Linked DNA regions of Homo sapiens: region 2 is linked to region 1. A link means that fine-mapping ties the variant in region 1 to the expression of a gene that starts in the linked region. Tissue or cell type: whole blood. Region 1 holds a variant in brackets; the other region holds the start of a gene. All regions are shown on one strand. Distances are from middle to middle.

Region 1 (7,541 bases):
GACTATCTGGGCCACTGAGATGGCAGCAAAATTGTTTCCCAGGTGGATGTTGTTTATTTATTTAGAACTGTGGCTCCCTCGTGCCAGCAGCTCTCTGCTATGCCCACTGACCATCGGCGTGCTCTTGGTGGCTAATTAGGGAGACTTCTTCCTGGGACCCGGGAGACAGACTGGAATGTGAGCACTGGTTCCCAGAGAGCCCATCCGGGAGGGCAGCGGGCAAGGCCTGTGGCTGCAGAGACACACAGTGGCTGCTGCTTATACCCTCCGCAGAGGCCCTGCTGCCACCCAAAGACCCAAGGAGAACCCGAGGGTGGGTCCTGCCCCTGACTTCCTTTAACCTGACTGCTTTTCTTGACACTTAAACGGTTTCATTGCAAATTGGAGACACTGCCAGAGTACCGGATTGGACATGAATCTCTGGTCTTCCCAAAAGTCAGGCAGAGATGTGGAGGGGCCCACAGTCACAGGGCAGATTCCTCACCTGCAAAGTGGCCATGCTCATCGCCCCATCCAGGAGCCTGCAGTGCAGCTGGGCTGCTCCTCCTGCCCAGGCCCCATTCGGGCCACAGACCCCATGATCTGAGGTGTCACATGTGGTTCATGACACCTCCCATGTGCTATCTTGGTCTCAGGCCCCACGCATGGTCAGCCAAACTGGAATCCAGGGTGAGGAGGCGTGTGCTTTCATCTGCCGGCCTGTCTGGGGAGGCCACGGAGCAGCAGCACATCCTTCTGATGGGTTAACACCTGGGTGATACCAGCCCAACCTGATATCCCACCCACATGTCCAAAGATAGCACTCACATCTCAACCTGCCTCCCTCCTCGCTCTCCTAAACTCCAGACCTAGAGACCCAGCTGCTTCCTGAGCACCTCCCATTATATGTCCCCCAAGGAAGCGCAAATCTAGCCCCACCAAAACGCGATGCATCCTTTGCCATCCCCCGTTTCGCATCCTCTGCTCAGAGCTGGGCACCACCATCCGAGGGTCCGCAACATCCAAAAGCTCCCTGCTGCCTCTGAGGCCTCCTGCTTCTGCCAGGGCCCTCCCAAGAGGGCTCAGAGCCTGGAATAGGAATTAAATGAGGGCCTTGTGAGGTAGAAATTCCCAGAGGAAGGGCGAGGTTACCCAGAAAGGTCTAGAGAGACAAGCTCAGGTCCATTTGGGTGGACTGAAGTCCAAGCCCAGGTCTGCCCCTTGGCCAATGCGTGACTGTGGGCAGAGGCAGCCCCTCCCTGAACCTCAGGAATGATCACCACCCAGCACCTGCTGCGTGAGGCCACTGGGAGCTTTGTGGAGCCAGCACACTGAAGGGCCCACTCAATTACGGGGACCCTTCCTGCTACCATCACAGCTCCCGAGAAACCTGAAGTTGCCCCGCTTAGCACCCCAGGTTTAATTTTACCAGCTCTTTTTTCCCTCCAAGAGACAACCACTCCAGGCTGCCCTCACCTGCCCAGGCCTGGAAGCAGCCCCCTCTGTCCTGGGGCCGGCTCCTTTCCAGGCATGAAGCTCAAACAGGCGCTGTCAGTGGGTCCAAACCATCGCAGCCCCGTCAAAGGACCCCTGTGTGAGCCTCAAACGGGGCATTGATAGGGCCTCAGTGAGGGCTGCCCAGGCGATCGTGGGCTCGCTTGGCTTGGCTAGCCATGCGGACTTCCCCAAACCCAGCTATTTCCTGTCCCTCGGGTGGCCCCCTCCCAGCTGCCTGGCCACAGGGCACAATCCCACTACACAGCTCAGCCTGTTCTTCGGCTCCAGGCCAGAGGTGGGAGTCGGGGAAGGCGGGAAGGACGGGAGAGTCGCGCCGGGAAGTTCAGGGCCTCCTGGTCCTTGTGACACACGCAGCCATGGCCCTTCAATCTCCTTGTGATAGGATGCAAGGCTGGGCCAATGTCTCTCCTCCCGTGACCTCTGCTCCCAATCCACACTTGCCGGGGCTTCTCAGCGGGCCCTCTTCCCATGGGTCTTTGCAAGAAGCAACAACTGACACAGACTGGGCCCCAGCCCGTCTAAAAGCCTCCACTCGGAGTAGAAAAAAAAGGTGCTTGGTCTCATCTCTGACCACTGTGTGGCCTCAGGAAAGTCACTTGATGTCTCTGGGCCTCTGCCCTCAAGTGTGAACAGGAGCTCGCTTTCCATTTCTGTGAATTACACTGCACCAACTGCTTGGGGGTCTGATAAGGAGCAAATAACATCCATGAAGAAATCTGCCATTCCACAAAAAAACTGACACCACCAGAAGGTTGACAATGCCTCTCAAACTCATCCCCGTCCCTGCCGCCCCATAGGATGACTTCCCCAGCCTTTGTAGGGGTCCCTGCATTTGGGCTCTTCCTTCCTAAAACCCAAACCTTGTAACTCCTTGGCCCAAAATCCTTCAAAGACACCTGTCTCAGGATTAGTCCATGTTCCTCGGTGTGACATTCAAGGCTCTGAGGGCTCTTTTGGTATTGGTGACAGATCCCAATTCAAACAGCCCTGGTCTCTTTATTAACTTTACTTTCAGGTAAGTCCTCAACAGCTCAGCCACACCGGGGAGAAAAGATAAGAGATGGAGAAACAGAGAGACATTATTAAAGAGTTGTAGTCCTGGATCCTGCCATACCTGAAGCCAAAAATCCCTGGATTTTTTATTTGTATGAGAGCCAAGAAACATCGTGAACCACCTTCTGGTTTCTCATAATAAACTTGGCTCATAAGGCTTCTGTTACTTGCAACCATGTCCTTCCTGTAAATTCCCTTCTTGGCTGAACTTAGCCAGGGTGAGCTTGCACCTAAAGAGCCCCACTGTGTGCAAACACTCTTCCTGACCCAGCCCCACAGCGGGCCGACCTCTTCTCCCTCCCCTCCCCACTTGCAGCCACGCTGAGCAGCTCGCCCCAGCTCCTCTCCCCAATGCCATAGAGTCTTTGCGTGTCCTGCTACCTAGACCTAGAGCACCCTTCCCATTCTGCTTACTGCTGCCTTCTCATCCTTCAGACTCCACTTGGTGACAGCCTCCAAGAGGCTTTCTCTGGCCCTCAGGCCACGTCTGAGGTCCCCTAGGCTTTCCCTATCGTGGCAGCCCTTTTGCAGATCTGTCCCTCCTACCGCAGACTGGGGGGAACTGGAGGCGAGTCTCATCTGTTGAGGTCTTCCCCAGTGTCCAGAGCAGGACCCAGCCCCAGGGGAGTGGAGTGCACGCCTGATTAGGGAGACATCAGGGTGCATCATCTTGGGCTGTGGTTCATGATCAGACAGCATTGGGTCAGGACCACCCCTCGCTCAGCATGGCCCATGGGAGGAGTTTCTGGATGGAGCAACTAGGTATGTGTGAGTGTTTACATGGGTGTGTGGGGGTGGGCGTGTGTGGAGGGGTGTGGGGGGTGTGAGTGTGTGGGTATATGGGGGGTGTGTGGGTGTGTAGGCGGTGGGAGTGAGTGTGTGGAGGGGTGTGGGGAGGGTGTGAGTGTGTGGGTATGTGGGGGGAGTGTGGGTGTTTGGGTGTATTTGTGGGTGTGTGGGGGTGGGTGTGAGTGTGTGGAGGGGTGTGGGTGTAGGGGGTGTGGGTGAGTCCTGGGGTGATGGAGGTAGAAGGCTGGTCTCCACCCTCCCTACACTGTATTTCCAGAAACACATCAGCCAGACAGAAGCTTGTTGCTGCTTTATTGAAACTTCCTCCCTGTCGCACACAAAGCAATTACACAAGGGGGTATTGCCAGGGAGCT[C/T]TTGCAGAGCCTTCTCCCTCTGTACCCCCCGACAGTCCCCAGAGACCCTGCCTCCGTGGCCTCCACCTCTGGGTCAGCTCCCTGGAGGACCCCGACACACAGGGAAGCAGGCACAGGAGGGCTGTTGGGGCCAAACCTCCCCAGCTGCCACAACCGCCATGACCCCAGTGGCAGGGTCAGTGCCCACAAGGGGGTTGCCTGCTTTGACTGAACTAACCTGTGGGTTTAGTCCAACGAACAGATGTGCCTGATTTCAGGGCTGAATTTTTGCTTGACCACAAGCCTCGGGCAGAACAGATTCGCCTATGACTGAATCGACTGAATGGATGGCCAGCGACAGCCTGGCCTGGGAATGGACTGGCAGCTCATCACTAAAATGACTCCTTTCATGGAATCCACTGTTATGCAGCCACACTGACCACAGAGCAACTGAATAGGTGAGCATTGGATTGTTGATGACAACTCTTCAGCAGAACAATTGTGTGTTTGAAGGGACTGTTTTATGATGAAATAACTGTTATTTCCTGGAGCTAATTGTTGAATGACAGTTTGTCAACTGTTTAAATGAATTTCATTTGAATTAACAATTATACAGCCACTCAGAGGTCCTACATTCGCCAGAGTTGGCATCCAGTTGATGGGTTCATTTGAATTAAATGGTTTGGAGGCTAACGTGATTTTTTAAATTGAATTTCATCACTATTCTGTGTATTCTATTTATCACTATTCTAAATGACTCATGGTTGGCTAATTGATTATCATGTAAGCAAGCTATTTGAAGAAATTGATTACATATATTTATATATAGGGGGTAACTAATTAATGATTACTTGATTAAATTGCTATGTGAACTGACAACTATTTATAAATCAATGCAATAGACTGTTGTTTGACCAAATTATTTTACTGAACTGACAAGTGGGTTTTTGATTTGTCAGTTGCTTGGCTGAACTGATCAAGTCGATAGTTGCTTGACAAACTCACCAACTTTAGAATGGCCAATCGTCTAAACAAGTGTCAGAGCTGATTGAAATAAACCAAGCATTGTTGGGCTGAATTATGGAGAGACCCGAGGAGTGACTCAGCCTAAAGCGTTGACCCAGTTGTGAGCAGCTCACAGGCCCTGCAGGAGGAGCAGGCCAGCGAGGGAGACACAAGCAGATTGTCCTGCCAGGGAGGGGCGGGAGGGCCCACCCAGGCCACAGGGGCCACCAAAGCAAAAAAGCAGATTATGAGGCAGCTCCACCCCTCCCAGCACTGGGGCTGGGGCCTGGCGAGGGTCACACCTCTGAGTATGGGGGTGGTGCTGGGCCCCCCTCTGGGGTCTTCGATGGCAAAGACAGGGCTTCCTCGTAGGACGGCAGGACCACCTGGGAGAGACAGAGAGATGAGGGCTGAGTATGGTCAAGAATGACCTGCAATTCCAACCTGGGGTCATGGGACCCAAACCCCCACCTCTGGCAAAATGATGATGATAATGACTGGCAGGTCTTGGATATTTGCTATGTGCTAGACATTGCCTGCATGAGATAGGTGCAGTTCCCAGCCCTGTAGTGGACATATTTGCCTTTGCCTATTCAGCATCAAGTCCCCCTTATTTTGAAAACAGTGCACCATTTTCCTTGGGAAAACATTCTCAGTCCATATACCTTCAGAAGAACTGGTCCCATCCCTCAGATCCAGCGAGGTGGCTGGACTTGGCCACTCAAAGTAGAATTCCATCCCCCTGGCTATAGTCCTTGGTTTGGGGATAGGCACGTGGCCCAAGTTGGTCCAATCAGACATACTCCTGGGACCTTCTTTTTCTGTTGGGATTTCTGAGAGGGTGGGATATCTGCCTAGGGGTTTTGGCAGCCTTTTTGCCACCACAAGGGATGGGCTTCCGGAAAATGAAGCCAACATCAAGGAAAGTAGAGTCAAGAGTTGGAGAGGACGAGATCATATCCTGATGTCAGGACTCAGCCAGGCCCAAGCCAGACCTACATTTGGCTGCTAAGTTCTGTGAGCTAGTAAATTCCTGAAGTCAGATTGAGTTGGGTTTCTGCCACTTGCAACCAAAAGTGTCTTAGCTAATACAATCTCCACCTTACAGGTGAGGAAAGTAAGTTACCAGGAATTTAAACCGTCACTTTCCAATAAGCTGCTTCTAAGCACACCTCATCCTCTCTTCCCGGAAAGCCTCCTTCTGCTTTCCCAGCTATCTCATATCCATTGACCCTCCAAGACCAGTTAACTGTCACCTCCTCCAGGAAGGCTTCCCTGATACCTGAGAAGAGGCCAGGTCCTTCCTCTGTGCTTATTGTCCCTGTGCTTCACACCAAGTTGTAATTGTATCTATGTGTCTGAACTGTACACTCCTCTAAGGCAGAGGTGGCATCTTAGTTTTCTCTGCGCCTCCTGGAATCGATATGAGACTAGCAAAGAGTGAGAGGCAGTAAATACTGAATAAATGAATGAGTGAGTGAATGAATCTTAGACTACCAGAACTGAAAGAGAACACATTTCTTCTGTTCCAACCCTCATCTTACAAATAGAGAAACCAAGGTCCAGAGAGGGAAGGAAACTTGACCCAAATGGCACAGGGAGTTAGTGACAGGGCTGGCACCCACCTGCAGCCACACTCACCTTCTGGAGCATCTTGGAGTTTCTCTTCTCCTCCACCGAGTTCATGCACTTGATCAATCTGTAGCACCGCCACACGCACTTGAACATGTAGACCTGGAAAAAGGCCCAGGTCAGGCTGTGCTTTGCTGAGCGTCCTTCTCACGCTCCAGCAGGCCTAGGACATATGCCAGGCAGGAGCCACCACTCTCTCCAGAAGCCAGCATCCAGCTGCTCCTGCTCGGACCTCTCATTCTGGTTGGGGGTTCCTCACCAGCCAGTCCAGAATATTCCAGGTATTGCCCTTTTCATTGCCCCACAGATACCACATAGCAAGGGGATTTGGGGGGCTTCTAGCCCACCCTCCAATTTCCCTGGCAATAGTCCCACAGCTCCTGCTTGACTGCCCACACTGCCTGGAAGCTCACTACCTCCTGAGACAGCCCTGCCCATCTCGAAACAGAGCTGATGGTGGGACATGTTTTCTTCAAAATTGCTTCCGATATGTTGTTTTCTGAAGCAGATTACAAAACAGCATGTGCAGTATTGGTCCATGTTTATAAAGGAGGAACAGTTAGTACATGTCCATCAGCTGATGCAAGTTAATGTAAGAATTGGGCAGAAGCTTTCCAGAGTGGGGCATACAATCCCAAGGGGCAAGCTCAAGAAACAACAGAAAACCCCCAGGATGCCCCCTGAGTAAGAGGAGAGGGTCCTGTACTGGAAGGTCTTGTTTGATGGATTCCCTGATGGGCACATAGGTGGGGCAAGGAGACATATGGAGGTACGGAGTGACAAAGAATGAAGCATGAAGGCCCAGGGAAAATCAAGTCGGTGGAGGGGGCCAGAGAGGCAGAATGAGGGTCAAAGAGGGAAGCCCCTCATTCTGGAGGATAAAAAACAGAAGGGGAGCTGGGGGACGGAGCTGTGTGCTGGGGTCTGCGGAGGGGTCCTGCAGTAGAGAGTGCCATGGAAAGCCCACACTGGCTTCCCCCATGAGGCCTTCAGGGGTGTTCTCACTGTACACTCACTAGTGCGTTTGTGCTAGGTCAGTCCTTGGAGAAGATGCTAAAAGGGGCAAGGTTCTGTTTCTAGGTTGGCATTAGGTGACAGCAGAGACTGCCCAGGGCCTCAGATGGAAGCAGGAGCTGGGGTCTGCAGATGCCCACCCACCACCACAGAAAGGCTGGGGGGAAATGCACCCAGTTGTCAGCAGTGATGCTCTCT
Region 2 (7,541 bases), 25 kb after region 1:
ACATTTCCTCCTCGCCCAGTTTTGACGTATCCTGTTTTGACACTGTTGAAATCATAGCAGGTGTTAAGTTTTTTAACCCAGACAATGCATTTCTGACAGTGGAATTCCGGGCACTCTGGGGAAGAGGGGTCAGGAAGAAAGAGATTTCTGGGCAAAAGTGTCTTCTGGGGGTGTCCACTTTCTACCATCGACTTAGAACGTGCTTCAGGTTGACAAAAAGCCAGGACCCAAGAGACCCAATTTAAGAAATTTCTCTAGACTGGGCTCGGTGGCTCATGCCTGTAATCCCAGCGCGTTGGGAGGCCAAGGCAGGAGAATCACTTGAGGCCAAGGGTTTGAGACCAGCCTGGGCAACATAGTGGGACCCTGTCTCTACAAAAAAAAATATTTAAAATTAGCTGGCCATGGTGGCATGCGCCTGTGATCCTAGCTACTCAGGAAGCTGAGGTGGGAGGATCTCTTGAACCCAGGAGTTCAAGGCTGCAGTGAGCTGTGATGGCACCACTGCATTCCAGCCTGGGTGACAGAGCAAGACCCCATCTCTTAAAAACAAAAACAAAACAAAACAAATCAAACCACAAAAGATGGGCAAGTTACTGAACTTTGAAAAAAAGAATAGATTTTTTAAAAAAAGAAAGAAAGTTTGCTGGGTTCCCAAAGTGTGCAAGTTTGGGTGACCCAGAGAATCCTCTACACAAACCCACTGACATCCTGAGGAAGATGCCCGAGCCCAAAGCTACGGACCAGGCTTCCCTCATGTAATAACGCCCTCATGACTCAATAGAGCGTGGCACTGTCTCAGGATGGCAAGGTCTCAATTTAACCCTCCCTAGAGGGGCCAAGTCCACAAATAGCTCATGATGTGCAGAGTCGTCACCCATGGCTGGGTCCAGATGACAGCCAGCATGGGCTATTGACACATCTGGACCACAGCTTCTCTTTTTCCATCCAGATGCTCAAGGTCCTATCAGCACACCTGTTGCCAGCTAGCCTATGGGAAAGCCCCCAGGCCCTGCCCTTTCTGGGAAGGAGAGAGGACTCTTTCGGGGTGCAGGAAGATAACCCCCCACTGGAGTCAACTGAGGACCACAGCCTGGAGACAACCTGGGCCGAGCGCACAGCTTCCAGGACACCCCTCTGCTCTTTTGCTTGCTCCTGCTCTAGAACGTCTCATCACTCATAGGCATTGGTTCTCAACTGGGAGAGATTGGGCCCCATAACTAGAGACATTTTTGGTTATCACAAGTGGCAGGGTAGGGAGATGGGCAGTGCTGCTAGTATCTAGTAGGTAGAGACCATGGATGCTGCTGAACTTCCTCTAACGCACAATTCACTCCCCCAAGATGAAGAATTATCCAGCCCAAAATATCAATGGTGCACTGCAGAGAAGATCCAACTTCTTAGCTTGTCACTCAAAACCTTTATCACCTCCTCCCCAAACTCCAGGTTTGTCTCTATTGTGTCCCTGTAGAAGCCGAACACATACGCCATTGCTCACCTGTTTCTCCTCACCTTCCATACTGCCCACAACCAAACTCTCCCTCCTGCCAATGGCACCACCTCCAAGAAGTCTTCCATGATTGCTAGGGCCCACACATTCTTCAGCTCTGTGAGCAGGGACCGTATATCACACCACCATTTACAGGTGAGGACATCGGATGGCACGATCAACAAGAAACCTTAACAGCCCCACAGTCCCGGGTTTGCAGGGCAGCCTCTGGGCCCACACAACCTGCAAATGGATTTGACTTGGCCTGCACTGAGATTTTTTTCTACCATGCATCAATCACTAGCATTGAAACATCAGAAGATGTGACACAAAAGCCTGCTCCCTATTCTCTAAACATCAGAAGAGCGGCCACCAGGGCCCACAATCCTTCGTGGCAACAACAAGCAAAAACAGAGAACAGCTGCAGGGTGGGCCAAGCAAGGGCTCCCGGGGTCACCGCAGGCCCCATCTGCCCCCTGCTGTCACTCACATGGCCTGCCCAGACCCTAGAGGCATCAGAGTTGGAGACCTCTGAGCCAGTCAACATCACCTTACCCCTGACTTTATAAAAGGGAAACTGAGGCCCAGAGAGAGGCTTGTCTGAGCCCATACAGCCAGTTAGTGGCAGGGCTGGGGTGAGGACCCAGGGACTTGCTACCTGTGAGGCGCCCCTGCATGCCACACTGTCCTTCTAAGAATGTGCATAGTCTCAGAGCTTGAAGGCCTAAAATACAGGGTACAGGGACACTCAAAGAGTGATTTGCTTCTCTCAGCTCTTGCATTGGCAGGAGCTCGGAAGGACAACCTCTGAGTTCCTCCTCCCAAAACTAGAGTCCTTGAATCTGACAACTTGACTCCAAGGATGCTGACAGCAGGTGCCATGTCTGATGCACAACGAATAATAAAGCACTCACCTGTGCGTCAGGCGTGGTTCTGCATGCTTTGTATGTATCAACTCCCTGAGCCTCACAACAAACCCTATCAGATGGGTATGATAATTCACATCCCCATTTTTTTAAATGAGAAAACTGAGGCTCAGAGAGGTTAAGTAAATTGCCCAAGGCTGCAGAGCTGGGAAGCAGGGAAGCCAGGATTTGCATGCAGGAGTCTGCATCCAGAGGCCGTGGGCTAACCACTGAACAGCATCGCCCCCCTGAAGGCTGGGCTCTTGCCACAGCTCTGCCTGCCCTGCCTGTGACAGGAAGCAGACGCAGGCAGGTCTGAGTTTGCAGCAACCCACCGCAGCATGTGGATCTAGGCTAATTTTGAGGAAGCCCTTCCAGACTCATGAGAAAACTGTTAACCACAGGCCCTGAGTCACCCCAGGAGGAAGTCGCTTGGGTCTAGGGGAGATGAGTGTGGCCAGGAGTTTGGGAGTAGGGTGGGTCTAGGCAGGACAGTACAAGGACACTGACCCTCAGCCACCCCAGGCAGAGGGGCAGCCTTGGCCCCCGGGCACTGTGACTTGCCCAAGACCACACTGTGAGTCACCAGGAAAGGAGGAACCAGTGACAGCCGTGACTTCACAAGTTGCCCAACAAGAGCTTGGGCCGGACAAGTTACCCTAATGATTAGCACAGGTCTCAAGTTCTCTTTGGTGGGCAGAAGGCCGTGGTTTGACTGAGCTGGAAGCTGAGAGGACACGGCCCCTGCCTCCCCACTGGAGGCACAAAGGGGAGATCCCCACTTCTCATCCCCTCGAGTGGCCCAGGCTCCCTCCAGGCCCCAGGGGAAGAATCGGGGCTGTGTCTGCGGCCGACCTCACATCCCGGTCAAACAATCCCAGCCCACGTTCCTCCCAAGATCCCTGCCTTCCAAAGCACTTTCACATCTGCTGTTGGCTTTGCACACAAATAACCTTCCGGCTGCTGCTGTGCCCCATCTCACAGAGGCAGAAACGGAGCCAGCCTCGGAGTGAACGTCAGTTACATTTGCCTGGAAAGTGGATTCCAGCTCCCTTACTCCTCACTCTTGCGGCATCTCCCCAGGGTACCCCCAGCCATTTGACAGAGAAGGAAACTGAGGCCCAGAGCAGGACAGGGATTTGCCCAGGGTCCCCCAGAGAGGTGGAGAGCAGGAGTTCTTTCATTTGTGGGGCTCCGTAGATGACGGGTCACCGCAGACATTCACACTCACACAAGCACGCACGCACACACACCCGGGGCCCGCACACTCACCACATGGTAGATGGCCAGGGCGGTGGTTGCGATGCGGACATTGAAGCAGCAGCAGGTCTGGCGGACAGTGGACAAGCGGGGGTCCATGGTGCTGCCGTCCCCTCCTCTGAGACACTGAAGGGGAAAGAGCCTGGTGCCTGGAGCAGGGCAGAGAAGGGGAAGCTGCTGGCTGCCCTCCTCACTTCCTTCCTGCCCCTTAGACAGGCAGGGACAAGGTCGTCACAGCTGGGGCGGGGCAGCTGGGGAGGGGGAGTGGGGACAGGGCAGCAGCCTGCCTCAGAGCACCCCACTGCCCTCTGCCATTCCCAGGAGGGGGTTCCAGAGAGGACAGACCCTAACACGGTCATCATGCCCTTCTCTGCACCAGGGCCAGGGTTCCACCGTTTCACACAGCTTGCTTACTAGAAGAACACTACCAACTTTGGAAGCCAGGACTGTTACCAAGCCCATTTCCAGATGAGGAAACAGCTGTCCAGAGAGGTCAAGGCACTTGCCCCAAATCACACAGTAGTTAGCACTGGTGGCAGAATTCAAACCCAGATCTGTCTGGCTGCAAAAATAGCTATTGTCTAGGAGGCATTTCCTGCCTCTTCCAGGCATGCTCCTGGATTCACTCCTTTCATCCTCACCTCAATCCTTTGAGAGAGGTACTATTATGATCCCCATTTTACAGATGAAGAAACTGAGGCACAGAGAGGGGGAATGATTCGTGCAAGGTCACACAGCTAGTCAATGAAGGTGCAAGGATTTTAACTGAGGCTGACTGGTGCTAGAAGCCTCCCTGGAGCTGGTGTTCTCTCCCACTTCCTCACCCTGAGCCGCAGGGAGAAGCTTGTTCTTCCTAAGCTACGAAGAGGCGTGCAGGGCTCCAGACAAGGACGGAAGAATAACCAGGAAGCAAACCCATCAACTGTGCGCCAGGCCCTGGGCTAGGCTTCTCTTCTAGGTGGGTCAATAACTCTTCACAGCAATCTGTGAGACCCGAACCTCACTTTCAGGGCCTCAAGACCCAATCCCCATACTCACACAAAATCAGGGATTGCTTTTCCCCCTTGATCTTGCAAAAAGTTGGAATTAATAAGCCACAACTCTTAGGCAAGCTACCCTGGAATCTCTACTCCCTCCTCAGATGATAAATTATCCATATTGCAATAAAGAAAGGGAATAGGAAGTACATGCAACATTTCTGGAAGAAGCCCTGCTTCATTCCACAGCTGAGCCCCTTTGCAATGCCAAGCTTCTAGTGCAGAGCAGACAGGAACTGCCATGAAGCCCTGCCCTCCCAGGAGATCATGGAGTTAGGATTGGACACTGCTGCAGCCCATCATTTCTGCCCCAGGAGAGGTTATAGAAAGTCCCTAAGCTCCTCCCACTTGGCAGGAGTTGCTCTGTTAGACCCACAAAACTTGATTGGTGGACTTGATCAATCCATTCTCCATGTGCCAATGAGACCAAGGGGACTCTGCAAGCTTTGGGCTCCTGGGAGGCCTGGCCTATCCCTTCCCAACTTCATTTTCAAGGCTGTTCCTGTTCCTTCATAAGCCTTGCTGAGGCCTGACATCATAGAAAGGTGACACAGTGCAGTGGTTAAGAACTTTGGCTCCACAGGCCCATGGCCTGGGATCTTCTGGCTGGGTAGGCAGAAAACCAAGAGAAGTCCTCCTTTGTCTAAGAGTAGCAAGACCAGAGGAACTGGAGATCAGGAAACCAGGGGCCAGGAGGGCCCTGAGGCCATGCTGGGGAGTCTGCATTTGATTGTGCACAGAAGCCATTTGACGATTTCCTACCATAATAAATGATAGCCATTCATAACATTGTGATTTGGTGAAACCAGGACAGGTGCAAAGCCAACTCCCAAAGAGAGGGATGAAACACACTGACAGCATGTGGAATAATTGTACATGGTCTATGGGTAAACATTTCTCATTTTTTATGGTGATAAATTCATTTTAATGTGCATTATAAAAATATACATAACTAGTCCATGAATCCTGTGATTTTCCATTTATAGGAGTAATATAAAGTCTCATTTTAAAAGAAATGCATTTAAATAAAAAAGGCAGTAAGTCAATTTAAAGAACATATTAAGGAAGCCACAGCCTAGGAGGACGCAGATGTGGCAGACAGCCCTGGAGGTGGAGTAGGTGGCATCCGTTTGGGAATCCTGGGGCATGGGGAATCCCAGCTCCCCACTTAGTAGCTGTGTGGTGTCAGACAAGGCACTTGATCTCTCTGAGCTGTTGTTTTCACCTCTGCAAAACGGCGGGGCGGTTGGGGGGAACAGAAATTTGCCTGGCAGGGCTGCGGTGAAGGTGAAATGAGGTCACGTGAATGCATCTGTTTGTTTTCTCCCTTCCAGCCCGTCCCTGCTCCCCGATCTCACCCGTACTCAGGCTGCTAGGAGGAGGCAGAGCTGGGATTGAACCCCTGATCTGTCTGATTCTGAGTCCCCTCGGGCACTACCTCCCTCGCAGAAGCAGGAGTTCTGATGCAGTCATTTGTCTCTCACCGGGTCACCAGGCTCCAGCACACACTGGCCCCTTGGCAGGCACCTCAGTCACTCCCTGTGGAGTACAAGCCTGAATCACTTTATTGTCATTCCCAACAAACCCCCTGTGGAGAGGACGGCTATTATCCCAAAGGTCAGACCCTTTGGCCAAAGCCACTGTGATAGGCAGAATAGTGCCTCTCACCCCCCAAAAAAAATCCACCCTAATCTCTGGAACCTGTGCGTACATGGCCTTACATGGCAAAGAAACTTCACAGGCGCCATGAAATTCAGGATCTTGAGGTGGGTGGGGAGATTATCCTGCATTATCTGGATGGCCCTGAGGTCATCAAATGGGTCCCCATAAGTGAAGGAAGATCAGAGTCAGAGAGGGAGTGGAAGATGCCACACTCCTGGCTCTGCAGTTGGAGGAAGAACCATGAGCCAAGGAGTGCAGGCGGCATCCAGAAACTGGAAAAGGCAAGGAAATGGCTTCTCCTCTAGAGGCTCGAAAGGGAATCACTTTCATTTTAGCTCAGCGAGGCGCATTCCTGACTTCTGGCCTCCAGAACTGTAAGACAATAAATGTCTGTTGTAGTCACTGTGTTTCTGGTCTTTTATTATAGCGGCCGCAGGGAACAAATACAGCTGCTCAGTGGAAGCAACAGCTGAGCCTGGGGCCCCGTCGCTGGAGCCCAACACACTCCACCGAGACCACAGTCCCCATCTGCACAAGTGCAGCCCTTACTTCCTTGCTGTGTGACCCCAGCCAAGTCGTGAACTTCCCTGAGCCTCCGCTTCCTCCTGCGCCAAGCGGGGATAATGATAATGCCCATCTCGTTGTCTGTACATGCAGGTGGCAACACCACATAAGCTCACTATTTATATTCTGCTGTTTTCCGTTACGAATGATAAGTTTTGAGCTTCTTCAAGTTGCTTTTCATACCTTCTTTGTGGAGTGGTAGAACCCTTGAAAACTTCAGACCCTCTGAATTCATCAAGATAAGGACAAGGAAATGTTCCATGCCACCGCAGCCACGGCAGAGCAGATACAAATCTGCTTGTCAAACTGCCCTTGTCAATGTTATTTCTGACAAAGGAATCTTCTAAGACCCCCTGACTTCAGACATGGTTCCCAGATCCTAGAGAGTCATCTTTAATCCTGAAAAGGTCTGTAATTCTGGCTGGTTATCTGGCTTAATAATTTGCTGCCATGGTATATGAATATTTAAACAGACAGCTCTGTTTCCTCAAAGGCAGAATTAGTTGTAAGCTTTCTTTGTTAAGTCAGAAGAACATCACTGGAACTTCCCTCTTCACCCATAGGCCTGGAGGTAAAAATAAAACCCACGACTCTGCCAGCTTTTGTATTTAAACAAAGAGTTTG

The links. PIP is the estimated chance that this variant, and not a neighbour inherited with it, causes the effect.
Region 2: LAPTM5 starts here. The variant in region 1 is fine-mapped to the expression of LAPTM5 in whole blood (TOPMed, PIP above 0.99). The same link has a PIP of 0.9 or more in blood mononuclear cells.

The regions. Positions count from the first base shown.
Region 1 is chr1:30,728,835-30,736,375 of GRCh38, forward strand. LAPTM5 (lysosomal protein transmembrane 5) reads right to left here. Exons shown (of 8, transcript NM_006762.3): 7 at 6,339-6,431; 8 at 3,635-5,083. The coding sequence ends at 4,994. Among named protein-coding and RNA genes, the nearest start is that of MIR4420, 6.6 kb to the right of the region's middle. RefSeq lists enhancers at 1,379-1,508, 1,659-1,768, 3,438-3,943, 3,944-4,449, 4,490-4,991. The variant C/T (reference allele first, on the strand shown) is at 3,714.
Region 2 is chr1:30,753,993-30,761,533 of GRCh38, forward strand. LAPTM5 (lysosomal protein transmembrane 5) reads right to left here and starts at 3,782. Exons shown (of 8, transcript NM_006762.3): 1 at 3,667-3,782. The coding sequence starts at 3,753. RefSeq lists enhancers at 1,053-1,402, 1,874-1,923, 2,589-3,385, 3,514-3,793, 4,862-4,931.